Regions from separate parts of the Homo sapiens genome. Here region 2 is linked to region 1. The links come from fine-mapping of genetic effects on gene expression. A gene starts in region 1. The other region holds a variant in brackets. All regions are shown on one strand. Distances are from middle to middle.

Region 1 (2,900 bases):
GCCCACATCTCCAGACCAAGTCCACAAATGCCAGTCCCTCAGGCCCAAGCTAAAGTCAGGGTCAGACACAGGACTCCACAGAGCCATCCGGGGTGAACAAGAGGCTTCTGGGGGCGTTTTCTTCCACTGGAGCTGGCCTGTGTGGGGCTTCCCCAAACATGAAGGCCCAGGAAAAGCCTGTGTGCAACCCCAGAAATGAGACAGAACTAGAGGGGGAGCAGGAATAGGTCCCTAGGTCCAACCAGGTGACATTGGTTTAGCTCAATGTCGGGTAGTATCTAGCCTTCCATCAGATGCCCTTTTTTTTCTTTTTTGAGAAGGAGTTTTGCTCTTGTCGCCCAGGCTGTAGTGCGGTGGCACAGTGGCACGATCTCAGCTCACTGCAACCTCCACCTCCCCAGTTCAAGCGATTTTCCTGCCTCAGTCTCCCGAGTAGCTGAGATTACAGGCATGCGCCACCACCCCTGGCTAATTTTGCATTTTTACTAGAGACGGGGTTTCACCATCTTGGCCAGGCTGGTCTCAAACCCCTGACCTCAAGTGATCCGCCCGCCTTGGCCTCCCAAAGTGCTGGGATTACAGGTATGAACCGCCGCACCTGGCCGACATCTTTCTTTTTTCTCCTTTCTCCATCCTAACCTTGCCAGTTTTCTGCCAGGCGGGATACAGTGTTTTCAAATCCCAGTTCCATCGCTTACAACGTGAGTCGCTCCATCTCTGAGCCCGTGTTCGCATTTGTAAAATGGGAATGACGCCGCCAGCTCTTTGGGTTGCTGGGAGGATGAAATGAGAAGACCCAAGTAAAGCACTTACGTCAGTGCCCGCCACCCCGGGAGGACTCGCATATTACTATTAATATATTAGGCCAGCTTACACTGGGTTTTGTCACTGACAATAGAGTTTGAGCAATCCAGGGCCTGTTACTGACACCACACCATGCTATAGTCACAAAATCACATATGCTTCCAGGACTCCTCCTCGAAAGAGTAAAGCTTTAAGTGTAGTGTGTGCTCAAGGGCTACGTTTCAGTTCGATGGATACCAGGAAGACACCTGTTCCCTGCGTCCTCTCCACGCCCCAGGCCGGGCGCCCACACCCTGCTCCTCCTGACGCCGCACAGCCACGCACCCAGGTACCCTCTCCGCCACCCCTTCTCCTCGCCTGCAGGCGGTGTCCACACCGCCCTCTCCGCTCCTGCAGACCGGGTCCTGGAGGGCGGCCGGGCGGTCCACGGGCCGGTGTCGCGCCGCCAGAGAGAACGCGGCAACTCGCTTCAGCCGACTCTGGACTCCTGACCTGGCGCGACCCCGGAAGTGGGCGGGCGCGCGACCTCGAAGCCAGCACCGACGCGGCGCACCGCAGCCAATCGCACGTCCCAGGTCGCAGCGTCCTGGCGAGGCTGGCCAATGGGCACGGGGCCTGATGCCGCTTCCGGCCCACCCTCTTGCCCGGTCCCCGGGAGGGCCGGTCCGCTCCTCCCGGACGCCGAGGACCTACCACCGCGACTTCGCCCCGCCCGGCGCGGGCCCAGGTGAGTGCAGAGTGGCGCCCCAGCTGCAGCGGCGGCCAGGGCCGTGGGAAAGAATGGGGCGATGAAGGGCTGGGCACGCCGCCTTCCCCACCACCCCCAGGCTGTTTGCTCGCGGGGAGGGAGGAAGGAGGGACCGCACTTGTCATCTCGCCTGCACACCTGGAAGGTGCCGCCCCCGTCCCCTGCCCTGGAACGCCCACAGGCTAGCGAAGTTGCCTGGTGCAGGTGACGCCCCCATTCCAGCCTTTGGACTGGAGCCATAGGAGAAGCGGATCGCGGGATCCTGGTTGTTTTCGAGAATCACGCAGCAAGGGGCCTGCCTATCCCTCTCCCTGGGTATTGATGGGAGCAAATCTGCTTGTCGTAAGATTAGCTTTGGCAGATGGTCAGGGCCCAGAGCTCCGACATATGCTACTGGTGGCAGTGCAGGGGCCCCACCTGTCACCCAAGTGCACAGCACTGGGCTGAACGCCAGGCTGACTCAGGACACCTCCTGCCCGGTGGGGCTGGGCGGACCCTATTCTTCAGGAAAGAATCAACTACCATGCAAGTTCTGCTGCTTTTTCCCACCTTTTAGGACCCTGATGTCGCTTTTGAACAGCCCCTGCACCTGGCAGCCAGCGAGCTACTGTAGTAGGCATTGCCGACTGTTTGCATACCGGATGGGAGTGACAGTGTAATAGAAAAACAAGCAAGAAACCTTTTAGGTAGGACTCCTAAGGCTCAGAGGAAGTAAGTGCTTGCGGAGCGTTCTTTGTACTGTGTCTTTTCCTCTACCACATCTCTGTCCCCGCCTCTCTTGGGTGCTTTTTTTGGTCTCTGAAAGGATCTGTGAATAAACTGAGACAGAAAGGCAGATGGCTTTGAGGGTGGCGAGCAGACCTTCTTCGTGGAAAGACTGAAGGTTCAACTCAAATTCATCTTGTAGAAATTCTTGGTGAATTCGAGGCTGCTGATTTGGAAGATTTTCCTCCATCCCTCTAACCCTACAAAACAAACAAGTCCCAGGATCCCTGAATCATGGGGCTTCATGTTCCAACCCCCCTTTCAAGAGTCCTCTGACCCAGTGACCCTGTGTAAGTTGCCTGATCAGCTCACAGCCAGAAAGTGGCCCATGAGGAGCTAGGGGGAGCCTCTTGGCAGAGGCAGAAAGAAAGTGTGGCTGACCAAGGATGGTTACCGGATGTCAACTGTAGCTAGGAAGTGACGACAGGTGCCTGGGTCTCTACTCTGAAGGGAGTTTGTAAATACAGCAACCCCCCACCCCTCCCTTTCACTGTAGCAGAGTCTTCTCCCATTAACTGCCCAGAAGATTCAATGATGTCTATGAGGAAATTAGTGCTTAGTCATTTATTTGAAGGAAAGTCAA
Region 2 (2,881 bases), 35 kb after region 1:
GTGTGCAGAAGGCGGAGCTGGCTGCAGCCCAGGCTCCTGAGTGTGGAGAAGCGGAGGAGGCTGTGGCCCTGACTCAGGGGCCAGGACCCTCCTGCCTCCCCAGCAGCTTCCCAAACCCCGAAGTGGTTAGAGCGGGGCCTGGCCACCGGCTGCCGGGCCGCACGGGCAGGAGGGGCCGGGAAGGTCTTCCCCTTTGACCCTCACTGCTTTTCTCCCCAGGAAACCTGTGGTATCGCCAAGGGATCACGCCCAGCTACCCGCAGGGCTCCAGCTGGGAGCACGTGTCCAACAACGTGTGCCGAGTGTCCGTGGGGCCCCTGGACCAGGTGGGGGTGCTCAGGGGGTATCGGGCACTTGGGGTGCTCTGGTTCCCTCTCTGGTCTCCCCCATCCCATGCCCAGCCGTCCCACTGCAGGTAGGGCTGAGGGCTTCATGGGGTCTGTGCTCCAGGTCTGGGTGATCGCCAACAAAGTGCAGGGCAGCCACAGCCTGAGCCGGGGGACAGTGTGTCATCGCACCGGCGTGCAGCCTCACGAGCCCAAGGGCCACGGCTGGGACTACGGCATCGGGGTGAGCGGGGCCCGCGGCCTTGGGCTGTGTTATCACCTTGTGCCTGCACTGGGTGCTGAAGACGGGACGACCACTGTGGGACTGTCCCCTGGGACCCGGTGTCTGGGTTGCAGGGAGGCCCCCAGGCAGATCCCCTCCAGGATCCTCGAGTCCCCGAGTCCCCTGGTGACACAGCTCTCTCCTTCCAGGGAGGCTGGGACCATATCTCTGTCCGGGCCAATGCCACCAGGGCCCCCCGGAGCTCGTCCCAGGAGCAGGAGCCGAGTGCCCCACCAGAGGCCCATGGCCCCGTCTGCTGCTGAGGCCCCCCCACACACCTACATGCAGGGACGGTGCCCAGTTTGGGGGATCAAGGCTGAGCCATTCTTGTGCTGGAGTGTGCACCGTGGGAGCAATGTGGCCCAGGTGGACTCAGGAGGGAACCTGGCCCCAAGGCTGCGGCCACTTCAGAGGCACTGGCTGAGACGGCCCTGAAATGTGAAGCTCCGCGGACACTCCCACACGTGTCCCCGTCTGCGAGGAGTCCCGGGGTGTGGGGCATGGGGTGGGGCTGCACCTCCCAGAGGCCCCTCCCACCCTTCCCTTCCCCTCTCCCTTCTGCCTTTCCAGGACTAGAACCGGGAACCTGGAGCCCTCCGGGAACGCCGGCCCTGGGGCAGCAGAGCCAGGATGGAGCCCTCCTGAGCTGGCATCTCAGACAGCACCCGGGCCCGCCACCCCTCACCAAGAGAGATGGCCATGGGGCTCAGGGCCTCTTTACCATGTGCAGTGACCATTTCTCAGAGCAGGACTTGCAAAGAGGCTTTAATTTCAAAAGTGAAGGAAGGAGGCCAGGCGCCGTGGCTCACGCCTGTAATCCCAGCACTTTGGGAGGCTGAGGTGGGCAGATCACCTAGGTCAAGAGTTTCAAACCAGACGGGCCAACATGGTGAAACCCCATCTCTGCTAAAAATACAAAAAAAAAAAAATTAGCTGGGCATGGTGGTGGGTGCCTGTAATCCCAGCTACTCGGGAGGCTGAGGCAGGAGAATCGTTTGAACCCGGGAGGCGGAGGCTGCAGTGAGCCGAGATCATGCCACTGCACTCCAGCCTGGGCGACA[G/C]AGACTCCATCTCAAAAAAAAAAAAAAAAAAAAGTGAAGGAAGGAGACAGCAGATTGGAAATAACACTGGAGTGGATGGGATGTCCTCTTCCCTGAGGGGGCCGGGGTACCAGACGGGAGGCTGGGAGAGGATGAGAGGCTGCCCCATGGCTGGAGGCAGTGTCCGTGTGTGCAGTCACCATCATCAACCCCCATTCGGCCCCTTCCCCAGATGCGCTGGTGACAGGGGCTTCTTGGATGTCAAATCATGTTGTAGGAGGGTGCAGACTGCGGGCTTCTGTGGGGAGCAGTACTACTGTGTCTGTCGGCAGTGGCCATGGGACCCTCAGCCCGTCCTGTACATGGAGCAGGGTGCACAGTCACCCTCCATCCTGTGGCGAGAGGCTGGCCCGGCCCGGCCAGGCGAGGCAGAAGGTGTCGGCCAAGTGGCCCCGACCCCATCCCGCAGTCTCTCAGCTGCTTTTTATTACCTCTGTGCCCCATTTGGGAGTTTGCTTCCTCCACCTGGACACTTTGCCCGGGAGGTCATCAGAGCCCAACCCCAGGCTCTGCTCGGTTGGAGAGGGGATGACTTCACCACCACCTGACCTTCCTAGGGTCCTGGTCTCACTGTCAGCTGGGGGTCCGTTGTGTGTATTTGTACAGTTTTGCTGTATGGGGTTTGTCACCCAAAAGCTGATGCTGAGAAAGGCCTCCCTGGGGCCCCTCCCGCGGGCATCTGAGAGACCTGGTGTTCCAGTGTTTCTGGAAATGGGTCCCAGTGCCGCCGGCTGTGAAGCTCTCAGATCAATCACGGGAAGGGCCTGGCGGTGGTGGCCACCTGGAACCACCCTGTCCTGTCTGTTTACATTTCACTATCAGGTTTTCTCTGGGCATTACGATTTGTTCCCCTACAACAGTGACCTGTGCATTCTGCTGTGGCCTGCTGTGTCTGCAGGTGGCTCTCAGCGAGGTACGGGGAGGGCGTCACCCTGCAGAACGGCAGAGTGACGCGTCCTCTCGCTGCTGAGCACCAGCTGTTTACCTGCCCTGCATCACTTCCTCGGATACTTTACTCAATAAGCATTTCCCCTGGAGTGTCCGTGCCCTGGTGTTTTTTATCGATACGTTGATTAAAACGCGTGGTTCCCCGTGTGCCTGAAGCAGACATTGCTGTGAAATCTTTTATTTTTGTTTTATGACACAGCATCAATTTCATGAATACTTTGAAA

The links. PIP is the estimated chance that this variant, and not a neighbour inherited with it, causes the effect.
Region 2: its variant is fine-mapped to the expression of TECPR1 in esophagus muscle (GTEx, PIP 0.99).

The regions. Positions count from the first base shown.
Region 1 is chr7:98,250,757-98,253,656 of GRCh38, reverse strand. TECPR1 (tectonin beta-propeller repeat containing 1) reads left to right here and starts at 1,425. Exons shown (of 26, transcript NM_015395.3): 1 at 1,425-1,531; 2 at 2,109-2,263. LOC124901706 (a long non-coding RNA gene) reads right to left here and starts at 1,298. Exons shown (of 2, transcript XR_007060448.1): 1 at 1,129-1,298; 2 at 1-773. RefSeq lists silencers at 1,139-1,238, 1,329-1,718 and an enhancer at 1,035-1,778.
Region 2 is chr7:98,215,381-98,218,261 of GRCh38, reverse strand. BHLHA15 (basic helix-loop-helix family member a15) reads right to left here. Exons shown (of 2, transcript NM_177455.4): 2 at 2,805-2,881. It overlaps TECPR1 (tectonin beta-propeller repeat containing 1), which reads left to right. Exons shown (of 26, transcript NM_015395.3): 24 at 220-326; 25 at 451-570; 26 at 759-2,881. The coding sequence ends at 872. Among named protein-coding and RNA genes, the nearest start is that of BHLHA15, 5.4 kb to the right of the region's middle. The variant G/C (reference allele first, on the strand shown) is at 1,671.